Linked DNA regions of Homo sapiens. Each later gene encodes a partner of the first gene's protein in a complex. Each region holds a gene or a part of one and is shown in the gene's direction. Other genes may lie near its edges.

Region 1 (7,283 bases):
AATCAGGAGGTATTAAACAATAATAAAACAGTAAAAAAACAACCAGGCCATTTAAAACTGAAGCCTTTATCTTGGCATACTTTTAAATTTAAGTTTCCCATAGGAACTATTTTTTTAAAAATACAGATGCGTAAATGTCTGTTTATTTTAAATCATATCCTTTTAGAACTGAAAGCCATCCTAGAGATAATCTAGCCCAACTTAGGTTTTGTTCTGTTTTGTTTTTTGATTGAAAAAAAGTTAAGAACCAAAGTGACTTAAAATGTTTCAATCTCCAGATATTTACTGACAGAGGGGTAGGTTTTGTTTTGTTTTTTGATTGAAAAGAAGTTAAGAACCAAAGTGACTTAAAATGTTTCAATCTCCAGATATTTACCGTCGGAAGGGTAAAGCTAGAACCCAGTTCTCCTGGCCTCTCATTATGGTAACAAACAAGAACCTGAAAAATGACATACCCTTGATCCATTCAGTGAAGATTATTGTGTCACCAAGTTATCTTCACCAAGGGACAGTTGCCCTTACATCAATCTCAAGAGATTAAAAACCTCCAAAATGTTCCGTTTTCCGTGGATAACCTGTAATGGGTCAATGGAGTATATGGGGTTGAACCTTACAAAATTGCCAATACTTGATTAATAAAAATGATAGCTTATTATGATTCTTCCTAATTGTAAAAGATGTAAAAAAAAAAAAAAAAAAGGACAAATGTGAGACACTTTCAGTTACTCTGTACTTAACCATTTTATCTTTACCTGTTTTCATAGTAACATTTTCAGTTGTTGGTATCTTTTTGAAGTTCTTAAACTTACTCTCAGCAAATGTAACATAGTACTTCCATTTATTTGTTCTAAATTTAACTTTTTGGCTTCCTCCAGTTTTCTATTTGTAGTGTTCTAGAATTTGGGAATCTCTCACTTTATTTTTTTCATAGTTTTATAGACTGACAACCCTTTGGCCTTGTAGTGTTAAGTCTTAATCTTGCCGGGGATTTTTCAGTTCCCATCCTTGAAAAAATACATTTAATAGCGTGAATTCCAAATGTATATGCAGAGCTTTTATTTGGAAAAATTGACAAGCAATTTAGTGATTCCTGTAAATGTACCACATATTCATGAGTAGTTTATCAGGAAAAAAAAATGCAGCATTGGTCTTCACTACTAATGTCATCGTAATGGTGTATGATATATTGGGCTTTTTAGATGATGTATACAGCTTGATTTTTGCTCCTATAGATTCTAAATTAGGAAGAAATCAGGTCTTAAGAATGAACTAATTTAATATTTTGTTTGCTTATTCCATGCTCAAAGGACAAAGATTTGTTTGAAATTCCTGTTCAGATTGAAAGTACTGTCCAGTTGTATTGTGTTTAATGGTTTTAATTTTTCCTCATTTTTGGATAGTTTTATATAAGGTGTAGCTATTCTGAGGTTTGTATCATCAATCTAATACAGGTTTTCATTTCACCTGAGCCTGGCTTATGAGGTCAGGCCAAAATTTTTTCTGGCCCTTTTAAATATACCATTTGGTCTGTGATAATTTTATGTATGTGTATGTATTTATACGTGTCTGTATATACGCACATATATTTGAAGTGAGTTTCAAATCAGAAAAAGCTTTCAGAGTTGGTCGAGGCGATTTTTGTGCATACTTCAGGTCTTTGTTTAAAAAATTTTTTTAAAAGATTGATGTATTGTGAGGGAAAAAATTAGAAATAACAATTTCAGAGGTTTATTGACCCAAAATAGTTTTGGAATGTGTGATAAACCAGAAATGAATTAGCGTGGGTTGTTGAATTTCATATTCCTTCAAAAGGATTTTTCCGACCTAGTTTAGGTTTGCATGAAATGGATTAGAATTATCTTGCTGAAAAGATTTCTCCACAGTTAAAAAAAGGCCTTTTAATCAATTTACAGAATGACAGACTAAAAAAGTCACAAATTTAAAATATGTATTAATTATAAATTGGACATTACTTATTAGTTTTTTGACTCATTTCTGCTTTTGTTGAAATAGTTTCTTCTGGAAAGTTAATTTATGGAAAACAGACTTCTTACTGACACATTATTTAAACAGTTGGAGATACTGCCCTATTTATATTTACCAGAAATACTGTGTTACTAGAACTTTTTATCAGCATTGGAATTTTTGAAAAACATTTTCAATGGTAACACTAGAAATCTTAATGAAAATGGGGGATGATTAGAATTTAACATGTAGCTTTTAATACTCTGGAAAGCTGTACGTTTTTATTAAAATAGAAATTTCTGTAAAATTAAAGCTTTTAACATAAAGCTTTGATTTTGAACTATAAATATTCTGAGAGCTTTATGACAGTTATCCACACTATCAGGAGTATCCTAAAAATGAGACTATGCTACACTTACATATATTAACAAAAACCTCTTGGGTATGGTCTAAGCAATACCTTATAAACTGTGCTTTTTCTGAAAATTTTTAATTTTTTTTTCCTGATCGAAATCTACCATTCAGGTGTAAATATGTATTATATCTGGCTTTCACTAAAACTTTATTATTAAATTTATTTTCATTTTTTTCTTTTATTGAGATGGGGTCTCACTCTGTCACCTAGGCTGGAGTGCAGTGGCACGATCTCAGCTCACTGTAGCCTCTCCCTTCCTGGCTCAAGCCATTCTCCTATCTCAGCTTTCCAAGTAGCTGGAACTACAGGTGCATGCCACCACACCTGGCTAATTTAAGTAATTTTGGTGGAGACAGGGTTTTGCCATGTTGCCCACGCTGATCTCAAACCCCTGAGCTCAAGCAATCTGCCTGCGCCTGCCTCCCAAAGTGCTGGGTTTACAGGCATGAGCCACAGCACCTGGCCATTATTACTAAATTTAACTGAATATATTTAAATTTACATTCTGCTGATGGGCAAGTTTTACAATATTTTATGTCCTAATGAATAGACTTTTTCTTTATAATCATTTTTTTTTTGCATATTTCCCCTTCCAGAACCTTAGGTCTTTGTTGCAAATAATTGTGATTTTAAGCACCTCATATGTAATCTTATAAAGTACTTGAATGTTTACCTTGTGGAATCTTGTCTTTTTTCCCTAGGCTTTAATAGTAAGCATAAAAAATTCATGTTCTAAAGAATATTGAGAAATTTTAACACTGGAACATTTAAAGGAGTTAGGGGATTTAGATTTCTGAAACTTCTGTGACTGCTGTCTTGCAAGAGTTCCCATTATCTTCCCCCGTCGAAAATGCTTACCAATGGTTGGTTGTTGTTTTCTCTGGATAATTGTGCAGTACCTGATGGCAATGTATTCTTCATAACTGTTTGTTTATTTTTAAGGCCATGGTAGGGGAGGAGTGTGTAGGTGCCATCGTTTGCAAGTTGGATATGCACAAAAAGATGTTCCGCAGAGGTTATATAGCCATGTTAGCCGTGGATTCCAAATACAGGAGAAATGGCATTGGTAAGAAAAATATTATTTTATGGAAAGAATGCCTAAGCTATTTTCATTTTTGTTGTGTTTTGAAATAAAAGACTTAAATGTAAGTATGTAGAAATGAAAGAAACTAAGGGAAGAAAATTAAGGCGGGTTTTAATTTTTAATTTCAAAATGGTATTTTTAAAAAGTTCTTAAAATGAATTTTTTCTTTATTAATGTTTTGTTTGACAGTTTTTCGTTTTAACAAGTAGCCGATCATCAGCTTTCACCTGCAGATTTTTTTAATCACATTCAAAATGCTTTGCATTATGCTAAGTACCACAAGAAATACTGCAATTTATAATTACATTATGATGGTCCTTCATGCCAGCCTTCAAGCACTTGTCTGTATTTGGGTTAAGTGGACCTCAATCAAGCCAAAATTATGGACAAATTGTTACCATTACTTGGTGCTAGTCATCAACTATATATTGCAATTCAGGAAAGATCAGGAGATGAGAATTGATTGTTTCTTGTAATTCCCAAACTTAATTTTTTGTTGGGTCTACTTTTCCTGACATGTTTAGTTAATCTTAACACTCATGATTTATAATGATCATTAGAATCATGTGGGTGGTTTAAAAACATGTATTTGGGCCCCTCACCCTGAGACTCTTGTTTGTCTTGTCAGAGGTGGGGCTGAAGCTTCCCTAGGTGACTGTGATGTAAGCCTGATTAAGAACCACTCTTCTATGGCTGGGTTAGATAACTTTTGTCATTTAAATAACGCCATAAAACTCAATAGGCCACCAGGTGCCGGGTGCGGTGGCTCACGCCTATAATCCCAGCATTTTGGGAGGCCAAGGCAGGTGAGTCACTAGGTCAGGAGTTCAAGACCAGCCTGGGCAAGATGGCGAAACCCTGTCTCTACTAAAAATACAAAAATTAGCTGGGAGTGGTGGTGGGCACCTGTCATCCCAGCTACTCAGGAGGCTGAGGCAGGAGAATTGATTGAACCTGGGAGGTGGAGGTTGCAGTGAGCGTGCCACTGCACTCTAGCCTGGGTGACAGAGCAAGACTCCGTTTCAAAAAACCACTCTTCTATTCTCTAGGACCTAGTGGCTCTTTGTTCACAGTGGAGAATTGGGTAGACAAGCATTTGTCTAAGCATGTCAAATTTTGTGATGTGCTTTAGCTGAGTATTCATAAAAAAAAGTTTAATACCTGTACCAGTATTTAATCATTAGTTTTTTCACTTTCATGTTTTTTAAAAACTATTAAGTGTTATTGTCCAACCTAAGACTCACACACGGTCCTAGGTATCATGAGAAGTAACTATAAATAGGTTTACTTAATATGTTAGGTTTAGCCAACTTTATTGCAGTGTTACAGCTTTCCACTAAGATTTTTAATGAATTGGGCTTGTTTTATGGACTAAGTTTGAGCCTTTGATGCATTAAAAAGCACTGATAAGGACTCATGATAAATTATAGCCAATTGTTTGGCTAGTTTGGAGGGCAGAAACCAGTGGCTTTTGGGTTGCATCCTGGCCTTCAGACATACTTTGTTTGGGCCATAAAATGCGTGCATACTTGTATGCATGGCTTGAAAATTAAGAGTTTTTAATTTAATTTTATTATTTTTTGAGACAGAGCTTCGCTGTATTGCCCAGGCTGGAGTGCAGTGGTGTGATCCCGGCTCACTGCAACCTCTAGCACCTAGATTCAAGCAATTCTTGTGCCTCAGCCTCCCAAGCACCTGGGACTACAGGCACACACCACCACACCCAGCTGATTTATTTTTTTTATTATTATTTTTTTTTGAGATAGTCTCACTCTGTCGCCCAGGTTGGAGCGCAGTGGCATGATCTCGACTCACTGCAACCTCCGCCTCCTGTGTTCAAGTGATTTTCCTGCCTCCGCCTCCCAAGTAGCTGGGATTACAGGCACCCTCCACCTGTAATGCCTGGCTAATTTTTTATTTTTTAGTAGAGATGGGGTTTCGTCATGTTGGCCAGGCTGGTCTTGAACTCCTGACCTCCGGTGATCCGCCCACCTTGGCCTCCCAAAGTGCTGGGATTATAGGCTGAGCCACTGCACCCAGCCAGTTTTTTGTATTTTTAGTAGAGATGGGGTTTTGCCATGACCTCAGCCTCCAAAATGCTGGGATTACAGGCGTGAGCCACCACGCCTGGCCAATTTTTTGTATTTTTAATAGAGACGGGGTTTCACCATGTTGGCCAGGCTGGTCTTGAACTCTTGGCCTCAAGTGATCCACCTGCCTTGGCTTCCCAAAGTGCTGGGATTACAGGCGTGAACCACTGCGCCCAGCCTAAGAGTTTTTAAATAAAATTTGTCTGTCTGCTCTTAAAATCAGATTTGGCAAATTTTTTCCCTTTTAATATACCAATTATATTTGACCCTAAACTAGGATACATTTTGCTAGACATGTACAGACACACCACTGACATCATTGGGAGTGCCAGACTTGCCAGACTTCATCGTGCTCACTGTAAAGTTTATAGGAACCTACTGTGGGTAACAGCAGTTCTGATGAGGTTGTCTTGTCCCTTGTGTCCAGGGGAGTTTGAAGGATCTTTGGTGAGATCAGCTTGGGTTATGCAGTAAGTTCTGGCCAACTCACGGGGAGTTCCTGCGTTGTTCTGGCCATACCATATCTTGTCTTTTTCTCTTTCGCTTTCCTACTGCTTTCAAACACAATAGAACAAACTCCTGCTTGTGGCAAATAATTATGTCTGAGAAAAAGGAGTATATTGGGAGATAGGTCTTTCAAGAGGAAACATACTGTTATGTATAGGTTCTGTTGGCTTCTCTTAGCTTATAGCTAAAATTTTTCCCATTTAATTTGAGGTAATCCGTGTATCTGGATTCAAGATAGAAACTAGCATTTGACATTTCTGTGCTTACGAATATTATAATTTAGGTTATCTTTAAGAAATACATTTTTCCTTCATTAATACTCAGATCTATATTCTAGGTACTAACTTGGTTAAGAAAGCTATATATGCCATGGTTGAGGGAGACTGTGATGAGGTAAGTCTTTAAAAATGTTTAATATTTTTTATCTGGGCATTATTCTTTCTGGGTATTTTTAATAAATATTTTATAATTTATTGCAGATTTCATTGCAGTGTTACTATACAAATGCAGCTTGTGGGGAAAATTATATTCCATTTAAAAACACATGAATTTTTGACCTAGAACAAATTTTAAAATGGAGCTAAAATTTCTTCAAAATGTGTGGGGGGAATCTTAGACATTTTCAGTACACAATTTTGGTATTCAGAGGCTTTATCATCAGTTATTTAAGGTAGCTCTTATTACAGACTCTGTTATAATTTGCTTACATATTGGCCTTAGTTTCTGACAATGGGAAACTGTCAGTCTATATGGAGGACATTTCACACTTGAAAATAATCTTTTCAGAATTAAATAATGACAATGTTGGCTAGGGGGAAGACAACCACTTTTAAAGAGTAGAGCTATCTGCGCATTAACATAAGAGCATTTTCTCTCTTCAGCTTGTTTGTAAGGTCTGATGGCAGATATTTCTTTGTATCCTACTGCACGGTGTTTCTACATATAGTAGGTGCATGATAAATATTGGTGATGATTGGGAATGTTAACATTTACTGTTGCACAGTGTGGAAGGGAACAAGTATAAACTAGAGAAGTATAGATGTCTTTAACATAGCAGTGGTGACTAAGGAGGAGCAAAGTTGTACTAGTACTTTTATGAGTAATAGAAGTAGCAATTGTCTTTATTATTAGAGGTCAGATGTGCCTTAGAGAATTCTCAAAATATGTGAAATTGGGTAAGTTTTTTTAAAAGGTTGACCTTAATAAATAATTTGTTTAGTGA
Region 2 (7,283 bases), on another chromosome or scaffold:
CAGGATTATCAAATAACATGTATAGCCATTTACTATTTCATAGTTTATGAAGCATTTTTTAATACATTAGCTCATTTGACATAATCAGATTAGTCAGTTTATTTTGACTATTTTAATATTACTACTCTTGGGAGGTTTTTATTTCTGTACATTTTTTATCCTACATCAGAATTCACCTTCAGTAAGGATTAATAAGTAACACTCATTGTGGAGACAGCAACTTATAAAAAATTTTCACAAACTTTTTATATTTTAATCACTTGCGTAGTCTGTGGCATTTATAAGTATACTGATTTTACACTAATGACAATTCTGTGCGTGACACCGTAACTAATATATAACATTTGTTTTAAGACCACTTTCCTGGTGGATAACAAAAAGGTCTTTGGAACTCATCTCATGCAAGACATGGTGAAAGATGCACTTCGGTCTTTTGTCAGTCCTCCGGTGCTTTCCCCCAAGTAAGTATTGTAAGACATTTTAGAGTTGTATGTATGTGCTCCTTTAAAAGCCCAACTTCTCTGTACTCCTTCTTTATAGCCAAAGTATCAAAATTGGGACCAAATCTCCATGTAAAGTAACTTAATAGTGTTAAAATTAATTGATCTCTGCCACATTGTTTAGATTAAAACTAAGGTTTTTATGAGGTTGACAAAATTTCTGATAACTCCAAGTTTTTTGTCTCCAGCGTAAGTCCTTAAACTTTGCCGTAGTAGAGGCACTGCCCCGAAAACATGCTGCCATCAGAGGCTGAAAGGATTGCATGCAGAAAGAATCATCATTTGAAAGCTGGCATTCTGAGAAATGTCAGGCTTTTCCAACAGGGAAGGGAAGAAAGGAGTCATCATTTCTTAACAAAGCACTTACACTTTGTTAAAAAAAAAGATACACCTAACAGTGTATCTTTTTCCACTGAAAGATACACGATGGCTTTCTATCACAAATTACTTCATGGTAGATCTAATTAATTATATGTAATGGCTGCCAAATATTTCATAATAAATGTTGAGTATCTTTTATCCAAAATGCCCTGGACCAGAGGTGTTTTAGATTTCTGATATTTTTGGATTTTTGAAGTATTTGCATGTACATAATGTTGCTCAGGCTGGAGTGCAGTGGCATCATCTCAGCTTACTGCAACCTCCGCCTCCTAGGTTCAAGAGATTCTCCCACATCAGCCTCCTGAGTAGCTGAGATCACGGGTGCATGTCACCATGCCCAGCTAATTTTTGTATTTTTAGTAGAGATGGGCTTTCGCTATGTTGGCCAGGCTGGTCTCAAACCCTGACCTCAAGTGATCTGCCCACCTTGGCCTCCCAAAGTGCTGGGATTATAGGCTTGAGCCACTGCACCGGCCTAATATGTTTCTTTTACATGGTGGTGTAATTTTTGTTAGCTCAAATCTTTTGAAAGCAGAATTCAGCCTGTTCACATTTGGTATACACTATTGGGTCATGAGTTTGATGTTAATAAATCAACAGTATATTAATCCATTAAATGAGGTGTCTTAAACAGAAATACACATAAAATAAGGTTATTCATTGATCAGTGCATGGAAATGTTGTGACCAGAGACTCATAGGAATCTAACCCTTTATTTCCCATGTTAGCAATGATTTAATAGTCTAATTTAGTATCTTCAGAAACTTTATGGAACATAAATACCACAAATAATGATAATTGTATATATGGAAAACTTTATTGTGTGGTAGTCTAGTTGTTCCACTGTTTTAAAACTTTCAGTGTTATAGATGAGAATCCTCTTTTCCTTTGTAAGTGATTTGAAACTTCTTCTGAAGCGTTGATGAGTTTCTCTTTATTTTAGGAGTTCAGAAGTTTTACCAGAATATTCATGTGTGATTTTCAGCTAGTGCTATCTGGAATTCAGTCATTAAAGACTCAGGTTTTTAGTCAGATCATTTGTCCCTGTTATTACTTATTTATTGCTTCACCTTCATCTGTTTTGATTTTTCCTTTTTTAGAGCTCCTAGCATACTAGGGTCTTCTAGAGCTCTCTTACCTATGCCTCATGACAGTCATCTCCTTGTTATTTTTGCTGTGTTGTGAGAAAGTTCTTCCTCTTGATCTTCAAGGCTACTAATGAACATATTTCTTCTACTGAATTTTTAAATTTGAAAATAATCATTTTTAGATTGAGAGAGCCTTTTAAAGCTTTTAAAGAGCCTTTTAAAAGCTTTATTTTAATCTCAAGTAATTTTCTTGCTTTAGGGTTAAAGATGTAATGAACCTTCAGCACTTCCCATTTCACCAACTGCCTGTTCCAGGTGTTGACCTTTTTTCTTTCTCCTGGGTGCTGGGTGCACTGTCTTTGCCATTGTGTGACCTTGACTCTGTTAATCAGAGATAAGGAACACCGTAAAGGAAACCACTTTGTGAGAAGAGATGACGTGCCAAAGGGAGGTATAGGTGATTTATAACCAATGGTGAGGAGTGGGGATACAGAAAAAATTAGGATCCTGTATAGTATTTTCTTTGTGATTATTATTAGGAGCACAGTCCATGAGGAAATCAATTGTAGGGAAATATGTGACACTGAAGTAGGGTCATGAAAAAGTAGAGCTTTAGACTTTTCCTTTTCTCTTTGCTAATTTGATCTTACTGGATCCAACTCTGATTGTTCAAATATAGACCTATAGGAATTGGAAATATCACAGATTTATTGTGTGAATTACATAATAATTGTAAAATATTTCTTAATCTAATACTGAAATTCTTTAACTTAGGTATCGGTTCCATTTTCTCTTTTATTCACCTTCTCTGTCATTTGGTAGCATCTGCAGTAATTGCTGCTGCTTTTGTTTGGGCTGAATAGATTTTAATGATGTGACTGTTATCTTGCAGGTGCTACCTATATAATAATCACCAGGCTAAGGACTGTATCGACTCCTTTGTTACTCACTGTGTTCGGGTAAGAGCTACAATTTGGATTGTCATAATGGGTACTTTAAAAATCATGGGCTGTGGCCGGGCACGGTGGCTCACTTTGGGAGGCTGAGGCAGGTGGATCACCTGAGGTCAGGAGTTTGAGACCAGCCTGGCCAACATAGTGAAACCCCATCTCTACTAAAAATACAAAAATCAGCGTATGGTGGCGCACGCCTGTAGTGCCAGCTACTCAGGAGCCTGAGGTGGGAAAATCGCTTGAACCCAGGAGGTTTCAGTGAACCAAGATCGTGCCACTGCACTGCAGCCTGGGGGACAGAGTGAGACTTTGTCTCAATAACCATAATAATAATAATAATAATAATAAATTGCTGGACTGCAATTCCTTCAGTGTCTGTGCTTTTTTTCATCTAATATTTCTTGTTTACTTTCAGTGAATAAATAAAAACTGTCTCCTCCTAACACTTGAGTGGATGGTTTTATATCCTAAGGTCTTCTGATAGGTTATTAGCTACAGAGGCAGCCTTGGATGACCTCCCACTGCAGCCTGTGGGGACCATAGATAGGGAATGTTATGACTCTCAACTGGGAAAACAGCAGTTGCTTCCTCAAAATTTTTTGTGAATGGACATAAAAACTTTACTTTTTTTTTTAACCTTAGAATTTTTTTTTTTTTTTTTTTTTTTAAGACGGTGTCTCGCTCTGTGGCCCAGGCGGGAGTGCAGTGGCGCAATCTTGGCTCACTGCAAGCTCCGCCTCCCGGGTTCACGCCATTCTCCTGCCTCAGCCTCCCAAGTAGCTGGGACTACAGGCGCCGCCATCATGCCTGGCTAATTTTTTTTTTTGTATTTTTAGTAGAGACGGGGTTTCACGTGTTAGCTAGGATGGTCTCGATCTCCTAACCTCGTGATCCACCCGCCTTGGCCTCCCAAAGTGCTGGGATTACAAGCGTGAGCCACCGCGCCTGGCCTAACCTTAGAATATTTTTAACATCCTTGTACACTTATCTTTGTATTATATTAATGAACTGAGTTATAATAAAATTAAAATTATTGGCTGGGCATGGTGGCTCACGCCTGTAATCCCAGCAGTTTGGGAGGCTGAGGCAGGTGGATCACCTGAGGTCGGGAGTTCGAGACCAGCCTGACCAACGTGGAAAAACCCTGTCTCTACTGAAAATACAAAATTAGCTGGGCATAGTGGTGCATGCCTGTAATCCCAGCTACTCAGGAGGCTGGGGCAGAATTGCTTGAACCCAGAAGGCAGAGGTTGCAGTGAGTAGAGATCACGCCATTGCACTCCAGCCTGGGCAACAAGAGCAAAACTGTCTCAAAAAAAAAATTAAAATTATTAATTTAAATGAGGTCACAAATTGTTTTCATCTCAAGTAATTAGGAAAAAATGCAAATCTTGTAGTGAGTTGAATTATTCATTTTTATTTAATTTTTTAAAATATTTATTTATTTATTTATTTTAAGACAGTGTCTCCCTCTGTTGCCCAGGCTGGAGTGCAGTGATCTTGGCTCACTGCAACCTCTACCCCCTGGGTTCAAGCAATCCTCCCACCTCAGCATTCGGAGGAGCAGAGACTACAGGCTCATGGCACCACACCTGGTTAATTTTTTTGTATTTTTTGTGGAGACAGGTTCACCCTGTTGGCCAGGCTGGTCTCAAACTCCTGAGCTCAAGTGATCCGCCCGTCTTGGCCTCCCAAAGTGCTGGGACTTACAGGCAGGAGCCACCGCACCCGGCTTCATTTTTATTTAATTAGATGTATTTCTTTTAGAGAACTCCAACAGGCAGCTTTTTTGGGTCTACTTCCAGTTACTAAATATATATATATTTCATATATATATCTACTTCCAGTTACTAAATATATATTATATATAATTACATTATATATGTACATCACAAACACTCAGGTTTAGTATATTAGACTTTGAGTTCAACTTTTAAACTTATTTAAATATATAAATATATATTATATGATATATATTAATATATATTATATATCATATAATATATACTATAATATATAATATAGTATATAATATATAATGTATATAATATATAATATATATTATATATAATAATATATAATGGAAAGGCAGCATGGTATGGGGAAAGAAAAAACAATAGAAGACCAGAATTTATTTCATTTTTATCATTAATATTTTATCAGGCATATCACTTTAATTTTTAAACTTTCCCTTTTTTTTTTGTTTTTTTTTGAGATGAAGTCTCACTCTGTTGCCCAGGCTGGAGTGCAGTGGTGCGATCTCAGCTTACTGCAACCTCCGCCTCCCAGGTTCAAGAAGTTCTCTGCCTCAGCCTCCCATGTAGCTGGGATTACAGGCGCCTGCCACCACGCCCAGCTAATTTTTGTATTTTTATTAGTGACGGGGTTTCACCACCAACAGTCACAACTGTTGACCTCATGATCCACCTGCCTTGGCCTCCCAAAGTGCTGGGATTACAGGGGTGAGCCACTGTGCCCGACCCAACTTTCCACTCTCTAAAGAGTAAAATGCTTATATCTTCTCTGACCTCTTACAGGGTAGTTACTGATCAAATGAGATAATATCTGTCACAGTATGCAAATATAAAACAGTATTATACTTTGAGAATCTTCTAACTCAGACTTACAAATCCATGTCTCTTGCCTGGTTAGTGGAATGTTACATAGTATTTTAGATGAGAACACCTTATGGAGAAAGCAGGAATAAAGAACCATAGTCAAGCTTTATGGCTATTAGCTCTTTTTAAGCTAATAATTATTAGGCATTCTGACATATTTATAGCAGCACAGGAATGTCAGCCTTGAACATTGGCTTTTGACTCAAGCAGGAAAGAAATTGTCCTTGTGAAATTGCAAGAAGATATCTAAAGATCGAAGGAAGCTATTTTTATCATATGAAAGCAAGTTTCACATGAAGCTGTTTTTTTCCAGTTATTGATAAATTCTGGTGTTGAGTTCCTTAAAACAAACACCTATGTAAAATTAAAAGTATACATAGACCTAATTCTTACATACACAGCATTTTTTTCCCTTAAACCAGATTGTGAACTTGGAATGTTAAGTTTCTTTGGTACTAGGAAATTTCATATTTACAGTTGACAAATTATATGTGTATTGCAGCCATTCTGTAGTCTTATTCAGATCCATGGACATAACAGGGCTCGACAGAGAGATAAGCTTGGTCATATTCTTGAGGAATTTGCCACCTTGCAGGATGAGGTAAGAGCCAGGTTCCCCTCTCTTCTAAAATTAAATGATGCACACACTTTGTCCAGATTTTTAAAAACAATAATTCAGAACAATATTTTGACTAATTTTTCAACATGATCCACTTTTCACTTAAAATATAACAGTTTCTTACACCAACGTTTACAAAATGAAACAGAACAATAATCCAAACTGATAGATATCTTAAATATTTCTTTGATAATAGGAATAAATTATGAAATATGTATAAAATGATAGTTTTACAAGCTTACATTATAAAAAATATTAATACATTAATTTTAAAGTTAATTTGTGTGCAGCAGCAATATTGATAAGACCTGAAGTGTATTTGTATTTTTGTCCTTTAAAATTGATTTGGTTTAAGGCATGTTTAGGTAAATGTTAACCATTGTGAAATGAGAACTTCAAATGTAAACCTAACTAAAAATGCATTTAAAAATGTTTCTTTGGGTGGTCAGATTTAAATTTTCTGCTCATATTCTTTTTAGCTGTACGTTTTTTTAAAGTTCTGTCATTACCTTAAGAAAACAAAACGAACACAGTTTATGACATTTTATTTTAATAGGCAGAGAAGGTTGATGCAGCGCTTCACACCATGCTGTTGAAACAGGAACCCCAAAGGCAACATTTGGCCTGTTTAGGTACCTGGGTCCTTTACCATAACCTTCGCATTATGATACAGTACCTTCTAAGTGGCTTTGAATTGGAACTCTACAGTATGCACGAGTACTATTACATATATTGGTAAGAGCACAGTTTGAGTTAAAATTGGTGGTGGGTGCAATGGATAAGATCTGAGAATTCAGAGTTAATTTCAGGGTACTTTTTCATTTAGTATATTTTATCTTTAGTTGTGGGACAGTTGGAAAAATTTGAAAATTAGAGCTAGATCATCTTGAATATCTTTAAGTGCTATAATATTGCATGAGTGTATTTTTCCAAATGTTTATGTAAAAATTAACAAAAAATGACTCCAAAGTAAATGGATTAATTGAAGATCATTTATTTGCTCCTATGGAGAAAAATTAACACATTTTGCCCTGAATTTGGTGGCACTAGCTGTGGATGTACTTGACAGTTAAACATCAAATTGGAATGAGGTCTGTCTTCTTGGAAGAAATCATGACCAAGGT

The links.
Region 2: the proteins of NAA30 (region 1) and NAA35 are in contact, whole or in part, in a cryo-EM structure (PDB 7MX2), measured with the Homo sapiens proteins. Residues at the interface, in NP_001011713.2 of Homo sapiens: Glu221, Pro238, Ser240, Tyr242, Thr243, Arg245, Tyr246, His249, Asn250, Lys304 (codon at 6,413), Ile324, Glu334, Asn335, Leu336, Gly337, Val339, Arg340, Asp341, Lys342, Arg343, Phe345, Arg346, Tyr347, Tyr348, Leu349, Leu359, Trp360, Leu361, Arg362; in NP_001308810.1 of Homo sapiens: Leu45, Gly46, Leu48, Leu56, Ala59, Met60, Ala62, Glu64, Lys69, Glu121, Phe313, Pro314, Arg315, Ala444, Leu510, Glu511, Leu512, Glu517, Pro605, Lys606, Phe607, Glu608, Leu609, Asp610, Val614, Arg615, His618, Arg619.

The regions. Positions count from the first base shown.
Region 1 is NC_000014.9:57,393,430-57,400,712, forward strand, and holds part of NAA30 (N-alpha-acetyltransferase 30), read left to right. Parts: intron 1-3,322; coding exon 3,323-3,446; intron 3,447-6,398; coding exon 6,399-6,454; intron 6,455-7,283. UniProt on the Homo sapiens protein: Catalytic subunit of the N-terminal acetyltransferase C (NatC) complex. Catalyzes acetylation of the N-terminal methionine residues of peptides beginning with Met-Leu-Ala and Met-Leu-Gly.
Region 2 is NC_000009.12:86,007,004-86,014,286, forward strand, and holds part of NAA35 (N-alpha-acetyltransferase 35, NatC auxiliary subunit), read left to right. Parts: intron 1-354; coding exon 355-461; intron 462-2,861; coding exon 2,862-2,928; intron 2,929-6,042; coding exon 6,043-6,141; intron 6,142-6,715; coding exon 6,716-6,894; intron 6,895-7,283. UniProt on the Homo sapiens protein: Auxillary component of the N-terminal acetyltransferase C (NatC) complex which catalyzes acetylation of N-terminal methionine residues. N-terminal acetylation protects proteins from ubiquitination and degradation by the N-end rule pathway.